Linked DNA regions of Homo sapiens: all the other regions are reported to be linked to region 1. Evidence: microRNA targets listed by miRTarBase, many of them from high-throughput screens and not tested one by one. Region 1 holds a microRNA gene; each other region holds the end of a gene's coding sequence.

The links. Region 1 holds the annotated microRNA hsa-miR-146a-5p (UGAGAACUGAAUUCCAUGGGUU, at 1,966-1,987, shown strand). A microRNA usually pairs through its seed, bases 2 to 8, with sites in the 3' UTR of a target mRNA and lowers its output. Matches are read on the target gene's strand: a 7mer-m8 pairs with bases 2 to 8, a 7mer-A1 pairs with bases 2 to 7 and ends in A, and an 8mer does both.
Region 2: miRTarBase lists WSB2 as a target of hsa-miR-146a-5p. Seed matches in the 3' UTR shown: 7mer-m8 at 2,237-2,243.
Region 3: miRTarBase lists ENTPD5 as a target of hsa-miR-146a-5p. Seed matches in the 3' UTR shown: 7mer-A1 at 1,427-1,433.
Region 4: miRTarBase lists IL1RL2 as a target of hsa-miR-146a-5p. The part of its 3' UTR that is shown has no 7-base or 8-base seed match.

Annotation. Positions count from the first base shown.
Region 1 is chr5:160,483,407-160,486,579 of GRCh38, forward strand. MIR146A (microRNA 146a) reads left to right here and starts at 1,946; the gene lies at 1,946-2,044. It overlaps MIR3142HG (MIR3142 host gene), which reads left to right. Exons shown (of 2, transcript NR_132748.1): 2 at 1,893-3,173.
Region 2 is chr12:118,031,505-118,034,677 of GRCh38, forward strand. It overlaps WSB2 (WD repeat and SOCS box containing 2), which reads right to left. Exons shown (of 9, transcript NM_018639.5): 9 at 1,183-2,854. The coding sequence ends at 2,692. It overlaps RFC5 (replication factor C subunit 5), which reads left to right. Exons shown (of 11, transcript NM_007370.7): 11 at 1-730. Among named protein-coding and RNA genes, the nearest start is that of RFC5, 16 kb to the left of the region's middle.
Region 3 is chr14:73,964,197-73,967,369 of GRCh38, forward strand. ENTPD5 (ectonucleoside triphosphate diphosphohydrolase 5 (inactive)) reads right to left here. Exons shown (of 16, transcript NM_001249.5): 16 at 1-2,818. The coding sequence ends at 2,732. Among named protein-coding and RNA genes, the nearest start is that of COQ6, 15 kb to the left of the region's middle.
Region 4 is chr2:102,238,828-102,241,827 of GRCh38, forward strand. IL1RL2 (interleukin 1 receptor like 2) reads left to right here. Exons shown (of 12, transcript NM_003854.4): 12 at 365-1,175. The coding sequence ends at 414. Among named protein-coding and RNA genes, the nearest start is that of IL1RL2, 53 kb to the left of the region's middle. RefSeq lists enhancers at 1-87, 1,942-2,236 and a silencer at 2,176-2,235.

The DNA of each region.
Region 1 (3,173 bases):
AACTTGTACATGGGTATTCATTCATAGAAGCATCAAATAGGCAAAAGGTAGCAACAACCCAAATGCCCATCAGCTGATGAATGGATAAATGAAATGTGGTAGATCCTAACGATGGAATATTATTCATCCATAGGAAGGATGTACTGATACGCATTAAAACATGGATATATCCTGAAAGCTAAGTGAAAGAAGCCAGTCACAAAAGGCCGCTGATTATATGATTTCATTTATATAAGATGTCCAGCATATATATAGACAGAACGTAGATCAGTGATTCCCCAGGGGTGAGGGAGGGGAATGGAGATTGACTGTTAATGGTTATGGGATCTATTTTGGGGATGATGAAAATGTTCTGGAATTGATTATGATGGTTGTACAACTCTGCAAAATACTAAAAACCAATGCATTTTTTACTTTAAATAGGTAAATTTTCTGGTGTGTGAGCTATATAGCTATAGCTCAATAAGGCTATTATATACTTATTTTATTTTATTATTATTTTTTAGAGACAGAGTCTCGCTTTGTCACCCAGCCTGGAGTGCAGTTGTGCAATCTTAGCTCACTGCAACCTCTGCCTCCTGGGTTCAAGTGATTCTTCTGCCTCAGCCTCCCAAGTAGCTGGGACTACAGGTGTGCGCCACCATGCCTGGCGAATTTTTGTATTTTTGTTAGAGACGGGGTTTCACCATGTTAGCCAAGTGAAACTTGAACTCCTGACCTCAGGTGATCTGCCTGCCTCAGCCTCCCAAAGTTCCGAGATTACAGGTGTGAGTCACCACATCTCGCCTATATACATATTTAAAAAACACTAGCATGGTCTCTATGCTTATGGAAAACAGTCTTGTTGGAGAGATAATTTTAATCAAATAATTATACAAAATTATCTAACAATTACAAATTACGGTGAAGGAAAGAATCCCATATTATGAAAGAGACTAGCTGGAGGCTGATGGTGAGGGAGTGGTAGGTAAACATTCAAGTGCTCTTACAGAGATCCCCAAGTAACAGTGGCTTAAATAAGGTAAATGTTCCATTCTTGCTGATCTATCAGTGCAGGTGTAAGCAGTCTAGGGTGTATAAGGAAGCCTCACACTTTTGGGGCTCTTCTGGCATGCTGCTCTGCTGTTCCCTGGGGGGCTGCACTCATTTGCATGGTCCACAGTGGCTCTCTACCATGTCTACAGTCCAAGCCTGAGAAGAGGGAGGGAAACAGTAAAAAACTCTCCACTCCTGCTCATATCCAGCACTTTGTCACACCAGGTGAGGAAACAAAGTCAGATGTCCATGTGTTCAGATACCACTTAAGGGTTCTATTAGTATAGAAGGAGGAGAGAATATATATTGGGCAAACAATCAGCAATCTCTGCCATAGATGGCCTCTCTGAGGAAGTGACATTGAAAGCAAGAACATCAGGATAAGTTGATGTTAAAGAGAGGAACGAGTTTTCCAGGCCAGAGGGATGGCATATGGAAGGGTCATGAGGCAGGAAAGGCCAGCTACCATGTTTAATGATGCTTAATGATGTGTGTGTCTACCATACACATCCCCTACAGATTAGTTTTTGTTTTGACAGGGTCTCTCTCTGTGGCCCAGACTGGAGTGCAGTGGTGCAATCATAGCTCACTGCAACCTCCAATTCCCAGGCTCAAGCGATCCTCCCACCACAGGCCATCATGCATGGCTCATTTTTTATTTTTAGTAGAGACAAATTCTCCATGTTGCCCAGGCTAGTCCTGAACTCCTGGGCTCAAGAGATCCACCCACATCAGCCTTCCAGACTGCTGGCCTGGTCTCCTCCAGATGTTTATAACTCATGAGTGCCAGGACTAGACCTGGTACTAGGAAGCAGCTGCATTGGATTTACCAGGCTTTTCACTCTTGTATTTTACAGGGCTGGGACAGGCCTGGACTGCAAGGAGGGGTCTTTGCACCATCTCTGAAAAGCCGATGTGTATCCTCAGCTTTGAGAACTGAATTCCATGGGTTGTGTCAGTGTCAGACCTCTGAAATTCAGTTCTTCAGCTGGGATATCTCTGTCATCGTGGGCTTGAGGACCTGGAGAGAGTAGATCCTGAAGAACTTTTTCAGTCTGCTGAAGAGCTTGGAAGACTGGAGACAGAAGGCAGAGTCTCAGGCTCTGAAGGTATAAGGAGTGTGAGTTCCTGTGAGAAACACTCATTTGATTGTGAAAAGACTTGAATTCTATGCTAAGCAGGGTTCCAAGTAGCTAAATGAATGATCTCAGCAAGTCTCTCTTGCTGCTGCTGCTACTCGTTTACATTTATTGATTACTTACGATGATTCAGGTACTGTTGTAAGTGCTTTACATGCTGTTATACGAGACTCTTGGGAGAAATCACTTTAATGAAGCTTGAGACACATGGCATTGCCATGCAATGATTTTTCCCCCCTCTTCACGGGATCAGAGGGAACTAATAGAATGTGACAATGATTCTTTAGCAGGGACTGCTGAGGCTTCTGGTTCCTTTTTAAGATCTGCAGTGAAAGAAGATGAGAAACATGGATATGCCCTTCTTTTGGTCCCCCTCTTCCTTTATTTGATCTCTACTTCCTTCTATAAATATATTAGGGCTACATTGTCCCTTTGTATTTCAAACAAGGCAAAAAGAGGTTGTAATTACACTTTACTGCAATCCTCAGTTTCTCCAGGGAACAGGAATGCAAAGGCTTTGAAGGCCTCTCTATTTGCTGACATGGTCAGCTGGGTGCCATGGGCCAAGTCCTTCTGTTGCCCTCCTCTGTCACCAAGTAAGCTAGGTCCTTTCTGAGGCTCAGGTTTGCTGTGATGATGATCACTTTTAGGCAGAAGGTTAGAGGCCTCATGAGTGCTATATGGACTTTATTAGGCTTTAGATTTGATGGGGAATAAGGGATGTGATTTGTCTTTTGGGAACTCATCTTTGATTCATCATTGTCTCTTGGTATCTTGGAATTTCCATGTCATTACAGTCTACAGAATGAAAGAGTAACCTGTCCCAGAGGAGAGGCAGGTGAAAGACTCCACAGCATGCTCATTCTCATTCTGTCTTCTCAGTGACACCGAGGTTTACTGAGTGCCCACTATGTGCCAAGCACTGTGCTCAGGGCTTTCTTTGTATGCATGATCTCAGTGAATCTCACCAAGCCTCATCTGGAAAACGGGGACAAATTA
Region 2 (3,173 bases), not on the chromosome of region 1:
TGTCTTTTATAGGGGAAAAAAATAACCTTTTTTATTTTAAAGTTATAAGGTTTTTACCTTTTAGTTGCTTGGATGACAGGGAATTAGCCTACCCCATTTTGGTCTGGAACAGAAGACTTTCAAATTTAATATGGTCCAAGTGTCTTCCTACTCAAGGTAAACATTATCTCCAAAATTACATTTATGATTCTAATATTTGGCATTGTGTCTGTATCTAATTTAAACAGATGTTAATGGACGTCTGGCCGAAACTATTATACTTTTATAAGATGAGCTGAATCCTCTTACTTTAAAAACTGGTCTTTTTATTTACCCTCTGTGGTAGAAGAGTCACCAGCAGGTTCCAAATTGATGTGTATGATAGGAAAAAAACCTTAATTTTAAATATAATATAGAGCCTTAAACTATGCCACTGGGTGGCAGAGGCTGTATAAAACGCACTTGTTTTCATGCAGGAGCGGGGCAAGTAAGGTTGAGCCTGACTGTAAACCTAGAACTGCGGAAGGACTGGGACTTTTGTACAAATTTCACATTTATTTTACAGCAATCATGCTGCATTTGTGTTAGTGTTCTTTATAATAAAAAACAAAGCAGCCTCCTGGCTGGCTGTGTTACAAGTGACTCTTCCTTAGACAGCTAGAAAGATGCTGACTTTGTCAAACTTGCATTTATATGAAAACCTTCTGTCTCTAATATCACAGAATAAACTTTCTTTAGATGCTGTTCTTTATAAAATGTCAAATTCTTAAACTGTCAAATGGAAAAAGTCACTATTCCCTTTGTTCATGGAGGACTCACCCCCTTAAGGACAGCGGCAAAGTATGAAGCTAAATATCTGATGGCCAACCAGGCCTCAAACCACCCAGAGGCTCAGCATCTGCTGTACCTGGAACTTCAAGATAACCATGAAATGTAAACGTTGGCCAATCCATTCCCAGCTCTTCTGCTGTACTACTTGTTTTATGTGTTTATTTTTTGAGGCAAGATCATGCTCTGTCAGTCACCCAGGCTGGAATACCGTGACACGATCGTGGCTCGCTACAGCCTCCATGTCCCAGGCTCGAGCAGTTCTCCCACCTCAGCCTCCTGAGTAGCCGGAACCACAGAACCACAGGTAAATGCCACCACATCCTCAGCCCCCTGAGTAGCTGGGGCTACCATGCACACCAGCACCACACTAAGTTTTTTTGGCTATTTATTTATTTATTTTTTAAATAAAGATTGGGTCTTATCTCACTCTGTTGCCCAGGCTGATCTTGAACTCCTGGGCTCAAGCAGTCCTCCCACCTCAGCCTCCCAAAGTGCTGGGATTACAGGCATGTGCCGTCACACCCAGCCCTGCTTGTTTTAAAAGGGGACTTTTTTTTTTCTTAATGGAAAAAAATGAAACAGAGAGCCAAAAGCTTTTAACTGTTGTTTTTTTCTTTTCTTCAATGAAAGCCTCTCATTTTGAAAAGACATGTTTTTCTTCAAGCAACAAAGGTGGTAGAGGAAATTCCTCAACTTTCTCAACGAGTCATGTAACGTTACACTGGCCTCCATAAAGCACCGATTAAGAAAGCTAAAGAATAAGATGTTGTATTTCTTTTAAAATAATTTAAAATATATTAAATTTTCCTAAGGCAGGTTTTGTTTGAATGAGGTGTCTTGATTAGATAACTACATGCCACTGAAGGAGAACAGTACTTTTAAGGAGCTATTTTTGTTTCGCAGTAGAGTTGAAACCAGCTGATTAATCCAATGAAGTTAAACAGCAGAGACAGATCTCGTACATAAGAGTATCAGCTAAAGTCATGACTACACCAATTCTTTACACAATTAAGACATCTTTGCAACTGTTCAATTTAAGTACTATGGTTTTTAGATAATCGAGAAAAACACAGTTGTACCTTAACATCTGTTGAGAAAATACAAATAAATATGATGCTAATAAATGGCCACTGATAACTCAGTAGCCATCTGAATAGTCATGCGGTTTAAGAATACATCCTTGTATAATCTGACATACAAATTTGTCATTTCCTGCACATGCACACCATTGTTAAAAAAAAAAAAAAAAAGCCAGTAATAGTGTCTGGATCGGTCAGGAGCACGGCCTCTGAGTCCCCTGTAATTTAGTTAAGCTAAATTAATACCTCATACCAAATGGCTCCAGGAAAACTGTCCTGCAGGTCAGAAGGGAGCCCAAGAAGAAAAGCACTTGGCCAACATCGAAGCAACTCTGACCACAGCAGGAGAGAACTTGAACCAATGCTACCACTGCATCAGAAACACAAGGATAGGTACTAGGCAGAAGCCATCGTTCCCAGCGGAGGGAGTGTGAGCTGCTCTGCCACTAGAGAGGCTCTGGAGGCCTACTTAGTTGCATAATCAAAACAACATCAGTAACTGCACTTTGAATCAAAACAAGCAGAAAGAGTTCAACACTTGCTGTTCATAACTGGACTGAAAATTTAACGTAAGGCTCTGTTGCCGTGCAAGTGGAATCTCTTCCTCTAAGACTGACTTTCACATGCCAGGGAGAGAAAGATCCATGACTAGTACACTGGAATCTGGTTTTGCTACATTCTATTCACAATCCCAAAGAAATGCTATTTCAATGCAAGACCAGATGTTTGGCCCATTATTCCAGCAACTCCCTTTGACAGGACGATTTACCCTGCTACAAAGAAGCACAAGATGTGGTGTTGCTTAAAAAGTCCTGTATGTGAGGAACTCTTTCATTTTCTTGGGGATTGGCAGTGCTAGGACTTGGTAAGTTGTTAGGAAACTTCGAAGGGCTTTCCGGCATAAGTGCTTCAGTGAGGACAGGACCCTAGGAGCTGTCCAGAACTGGACGTGGCCATCTCTTGTCCTAAAATGAAACAGAAACCGATGCTAAGACAGAGCTTGGATGTTCATGTTTTCATGAGGATGAATACTCATGTTTCTGTTTTGACTGCAAAGAGCAGGAGACTTCGGAGAGTGAAATGTAACCCTGACTGTGGAAATGGATGTAAAATTGTGGTGCTGAATAATTAAAGCTGCTGATAGGATTAGAAAAACTCAAGACACCTGTGATACCAAAGCGCTCTCTCTGTCTCTCTCTCGGCACAGCCCTTTCTAAATCTGACCACAGTTAGTTCAAAAGTATAAGGGGGAAGAGTGCCACCTACTGAATTATAGATGTTACC
Region 3 (3,173 bases), not on the chromosome of region 1:
GAGTGTTCTTCATATGACAATGATGTTAAACACCATCTGTCACGTACCAGGCCATGTCCTAAGTATTTTAAATATGTTAACACATCTACAAAGAGGAAACTATTAGAATCTGTAGGACCTCTTAAGCCCAAAGGGTCTACTGCAGGCAGGATGGGCGTTACAGAAAAAAATAAAAACTCTCATTCCAAATTGCTCCTAAGATGGACAAATTGGTTACTTCTCCAGAAGGTCTAATCAAGGTTAACAAAATAGGTAAGTTCGTGGAGTTAGAATGCATCTTCCCTGGAGTTCAGAGGTATTTGGGATGACCAAAGGAGTCTGCTGGACAGTATGTGTGTTTTACAAAATGGCCCCCACAGTGATTAAAGACCAGAGACTTATATCTCTGCATTTGTCAAGCTGGAACAGTCTTTAGTGAACACAGCTTACCTCTTTTAAAACTGCTGGTTTCTACTGAAGGAAACATGGATGACATTTAGTGTTCTGTGACTGGTCTGGCACCCTACTTTTGTTGACAAAGATGGGAAGGGGTCTAAAAGTCATGTCACTTATAAAAGAACTTGGGAGGAACTTTTTTCAAAAGATCCAAAGATTTTGGAAGGAGAGATTAGAGCAGAACTAAGACCACTTAGAAGATAGGTAGATTTCAGCTCAATATAAGGAATTTTTTTTAATATCAGTGCAGTTCCAAATGGAATAAGCTGTTTGAACATGGCTTAGCAGAAGCTGAATGACAACCTGTTAGAAATTCTAGGGAATTCTGCACTGAGTACAACATTGGATTATTTCTTTGGGCTGTTTCCAACTCAAGATTCTGTTATTTCATTATAAGCATTTTGAGGAAGGCAGTTGGTATAAAGGTGACCTTAGTAATAAAAGTCAGTGTGAAGTCTAAAGAAATTCCACAATGAATTTAAAGACAAGAATTTTAGGGACAAGGATACAGAAATTTGCCTAGTAACTTGCACACAGCAGATGGTAAATATTTATTGACTCAATGGAGTAATGTTAAAAATAAGGTTTCCCATGGACTGTGTGAGGGCCAGGCATACTTAACATCCTTTGTGAGAGAGAGGATGGAAACGGAGTCTACTGTGAAAGCCACAAGTTTTGGGGAAATACACTCCTGCAAAGAAGCTGGAGGTTAACAACCAAGGCAAAGGGGCCAGACCACAGGGAGATCTTCCAGGTCCAAGAGCACTGCAGGGCAGATGAGAAGCAGGGATGATTATGTTGAAAGTGCAAGATAAGGCCAGGCGCGGTGTCTCATGCCTGTAATCCCAGCACTTTGGGAAGCGGGTGGATCAATTGAGATCAGGAGTTGGAAACCAGCCTGGCCAACATGGTGAAACCCCATCTCTACTACAAATACAAAAATTAGCCAGGAATGGTGGTGGGCACCTGTAATCCCAGCTCTTCAGGAGGCTGAGAACAAGAATCGCTTGAACCTGGGGGCGGAGGTTGCAGTGAGCTGAGATTGCGCCACTCCACTCTAGCCTGAGCAACAGAGCAAGACTCCATCTCAAAAAAAAGTGCAAGATAATGAATTTGGGGTAAATAATTCACAGTCAAGAGCTCTGAGCACTTGGATTCAAAAAGAGAGCATGAGGGACATTAAATATGGTTCTCCCTGGAAATGTTGGTCCACTGTACTGATGTGGGCTGAGAGAGCCAACCAAATCCAAGTGGGGTTTTGTCAGGAACGGTATTGGAAACTCTGAACTAGATAAATAATTCAAAGGATATTAGCTAAAGTGATCAGGGACCAGGACAGGAAGGTACTGTTACAAACGGAGAGAATAAAAGGGCAAACTGAAATAATAGATCCTGGAATAGCACAGACACTGACCTCTGACCACAGACCAAAAGTTAGGGCCTAGTTGTATTTCTTAGAAATACAAAGAAAACAAGTTTAGAATCATAGAAAACACTGTTAACACATTAGCCTGGGAGGTGGTACTGGCACTGAATATACACATACCCATAAAGTCGGATATGTTCATTAATCCCAGAGTTGACTGATAAAATGCTGATTAAAGCAAAGGTAGGCTATATGAGGCAGCCACACCCTCCCAAAACATGTCCCCAGAGACCGGGTGGCCTTCTTTCTTAAGGCTGTAATTTATGCACAGTTAGGAGTTACTCTCTCATCCTATTAATATTTAGGATGGCTCTCAGCTGGCTGATTGGAGCTAACACAGAATAGGATCATACAGATTCTGACATGGTCCCATTTTGCGTTGTTGAATTATACATGGAAAGCAAAACCAGGTTTTTTTTTTTCTCTCTTTTTCAGGGGAGGTGGGTGCAGATAAGGGTGGGCAGGGCACTGTATAGGGAGGAAAAAAATACTGATATTGATGGGTCTTGGGATTGCAATAAGTCAGTTTACCATTTAAGAGGAAAATTTAAATATTCAGTGGAATGAGGCACTCAAAGGGTTGAAATGCGATTTTTCTTTGGTTTCCAGGGACCTGTCCCTGGGCTCTCACTCCAAGGTTAAGTTCCAAAACTATACTTTTTGGCTCACAGGGCTCTCTGTGATGCTCTGGTGCCAGCTGTGTACTCTTGAGTGGTTAGGCAGCAGTTCACATTAGATGTGTAAAATTAATTAAACCTAAATCTCTAGGCTCAAGTCCAGGATGTCCCCAGACTAGTTCAGAAACTAAGTGCTCTCTCCTCCCCTTAAAAAGGTGTTGGCAAATGCAGGTCTCCAAGGAAGTACGTGGCCTCAATGGGAGATGCCCAGAGACTGCAACAGGTGAAAGGTGGCCCCCAAGGCCCAGCCCGTCTCTATGTTGTTCACTTTCTTTGTGAGCTGTTGAGAAGAAAAAAAGTCTTCACCTTTTCATCCAGTTTCCAACTCTAGCAAGCACAGCTCTTGGGCAGAAAATATTGGCAAAGAATATCCACATGGGCAAACCAAGGCAAAACGGACAGAAGCCAGTCTTTGCAGGCTTCCCACTACTCTGTAACAATTTCCTTCCGGCCATGGCCCATTGGCCATTGCCCCTACACCCACCATTCTCATATCTGAACTGAATGCTTCTGGCCCAGGTTGTGGCCCATCAGGCCTTCTAGAGAGATAGTTTAGACAGACAGTATTCTGAACTTTCCCTAACGTTGAAACTACACAAAGTATCCCCTGCTTTATTTTCTGATTCACTAATTTC
Region 4 (3,000 bases), not on the chromosome of region 1:
TACACCCAGGAACTTCTGAGAAATGCTGCTGTTCACTAATACAATTCCACCCTCATCTCCCAGGCTGTCCCTGGAGAGGAGCTCTCCACTTGAGAAGGACCTCAGAGCCCTGGCTCTTGTCATCCAAATTCACCTTTCCTCTGGGGCTCTTATAGGAAAGGTGAGAGTTGACACTGCTCACCTGTGATCCTCTGGCATAACCACCTTGCAAAGATAACCCAAGAGAAATGGAAGCCTCAGGGATATACCACCAGATGAACTGACGGCAAGGTGGAGGTTTTCGCATTCCCATGGCAGGTTTCCTTATCAGCCCCCATCTCCCACCACATCAGAAAAGGAGTAAATAGATCTTTCCTGATTTCAGGCCCAGAACTAGGCTCAAGAAGAAAGAAGTGTACTCTCACGACTGGCTAAGACTTGCTGGACTGACACCTATGGCTGGAAGATGACTTGTTTTGCTCCATGTCTCCTCATTCCTACACCTATTTTCTGCTGCAGGATGAGGCTAGGGTTAGCATTCTAGACACCCAGTTGAGCTCAGGCGTAGAGAAGAGGAGGATGGGATAAGAACTGGGGCCATCCCCATGTCATGGTGGGTGAGAGCTGGGGCCATCCCCGTGGTCATGGAGGGTGAGAGCTGGGGGTTATCCCCATGGTCATGGAGGGTGAGGGCTGGTCGGGGGAGGCATCCCCAAGTCATGGTGGGTGAGAGCTCGGAGCATCCCCATGTCATGGTGGGTGAGATCTGGGGGTATCCCTGTGTCATGGTGGGTGAGGGCGGGTGGTCATCCACATGGTCATAGTGGGTGAGAGCTGGGGGTATCCCTACATCATGGTGGGTGAGAGCTGGGAGCATCCCCATGTCATGGTGGGCGAGATCTGGGGGGTATCCCCACGTCATGGTGGATGAGAGCTGGGGGAATCACCATGTCATGGTGGGTGAGATCTTGGGGGATCACCTGTCATGGTGGGTGAGAGCTGGGGGGATCACCTGTCATGGTGGGTGAGAGTTGGGATTCATCCCCATGTCATGGTGGGCTGAGCCCACATGGAAGCCTGTGCTTGGACAGCGTATGCCCTTTTCTCTGTTTTTCCACAATGAACAATTAAACTGTAAATGTTAAAAATATCAGTAATTTGTGAAATAAATTTTATTCTCATTTGAGCAACATAAATCACAATTTTGTTTGTTTACCATGCCTGTCAAAATCACAAACATTTTCTTATCAGTTTAAATAATGAAAACTGATTTCTGCTAAAATCATCTGACAATTAGCTTGTCAACATTCAAATATTTTTCACCTTAAATCCACTACCTTCGTGGTGTGGTCCACTGAAAAGTTGGGCAAAACCCAACCTGTGATTGAGGCTATAGAGAAACATGAGGGTCATGCACAATAGCTTTTTTTCCCCACACTTAGTAGATGGACTGTTTCTCAGTCTGACAGCCACCAAAGCTTTATGTCCTGATGAATATTTTCGTCCTCTCATCCTCTCTGATGGCCTCATTTCTCCAAATTTCTTCTTCTCCTCCTTTTTTTTTTTTTTTTTTTTTTTTTTTGAGACAGAGTTTCGCTTTTGTCACCGAGGCTGGGATTACAAGCATGAGCCACCGAGCCCGGTCAAGGCTTTCATATTTTTAAAACTTTGAAGTACAGTGAGAAACATAATTTAGTAAGCAACTCAGTATGCACACACGGAATGGAAAAAGCTCTGTTCTATGTTATTTGTTCTATTTTGTTCAAGTCTAGCTCAATTTTTCAAAATGCTGGTCACAGCTCGCCAACTTGTTTTAATAACCAACTTATGCCTTTCCACTGCAATCTGGAGAGCTCAGCCTCTCAGGCTGCTGGTCCCCCTGTCAATCACGATACTTTGGCTACTTTGCTTTCTTCAATCAACAAGGCTTTATCAAGAACTTATGGCTCTTTTAATTATCTGACTTCCTGGTCAATCAGCTTTGTTTGTGGTTTTAAATGACCACAGGATAGTAGAAGTGAACATAATTTCCTGCCTGTGTAAAAGGATGACATCAAGAGGAAAAGAAAGCAGCTCACTGGGTGAAGGACCTTGAGAAAGAGATGAACATTTCCTCTCTTGAGACACAGGACAAACAAGGTCACGCCTGAGCTCGGCAAACAAGGACTTCGGTGCCTGCCTACGGCGCCATTGCGCCCTCTAGTGGCTGCTGAGGAACCGCTGTCCAGCCCGAAGCTCACAGAGCCCCGTTCAGGCTGCCGCAACCTACCTAGGCGGCCAGAATGGAGACTTACAGGTGGGCGGGCATCCCGGGGTGCACACATTACCTTCTCGGGGCTCTCCAACTTAAGGCCAAGGATATCTTTCTTCTTTTTCGGCTGCTGAGAAGGTGGAGATAGTGCCATTTTCGAATGTGTTCCTAACTCTTGGGCTTCTGAGACTGTCGCAGTCTGTCCAAGGGTGGTGAGTGGGGATCAGCAGGCCCTGTTTACTATGTGCTCGCAAGAGGGGACTGCGGTCATAGGGATTTCAGAGAGGTGGCCCTGGCGTCGGGCCCCTGGACTCCAGTCACAACTCAACCACTTGCTGAGGGAGTATGCTAGCTAAATCCCTCTTGCAAGTCAAAAACCCTGTGCCCCAGTTTCTTCCTCTGTAAAAAAGGGATAATACAATGTTGGTATCCTTATTGCCCACTACAAAAAGGGCCAGAGAATATGAACAGGACATTTACAAAGTAAGGATTAATTCGTACAAAAGCCCGGTGAACGGAAAATGTGTGTAACATCACAAATGATCTGATGCCGCCAGGTAGGGGGGCATTTACCATGTGCCAGACAGACCCTAAGCTAAGCTCTTTAAGTACATTATCTCATTAACAGTCAATTATCCTATATCCTCTCCATTTTAAAATGAAGAAAGTAAGTGTGTAAGAGATTAGATAACCCACCCAGGGGTAACACAGTTGTTAGACATGGCCCCAGGGAAGTGTATCACCGGCTGGGTATTTCACGATGTTACAGC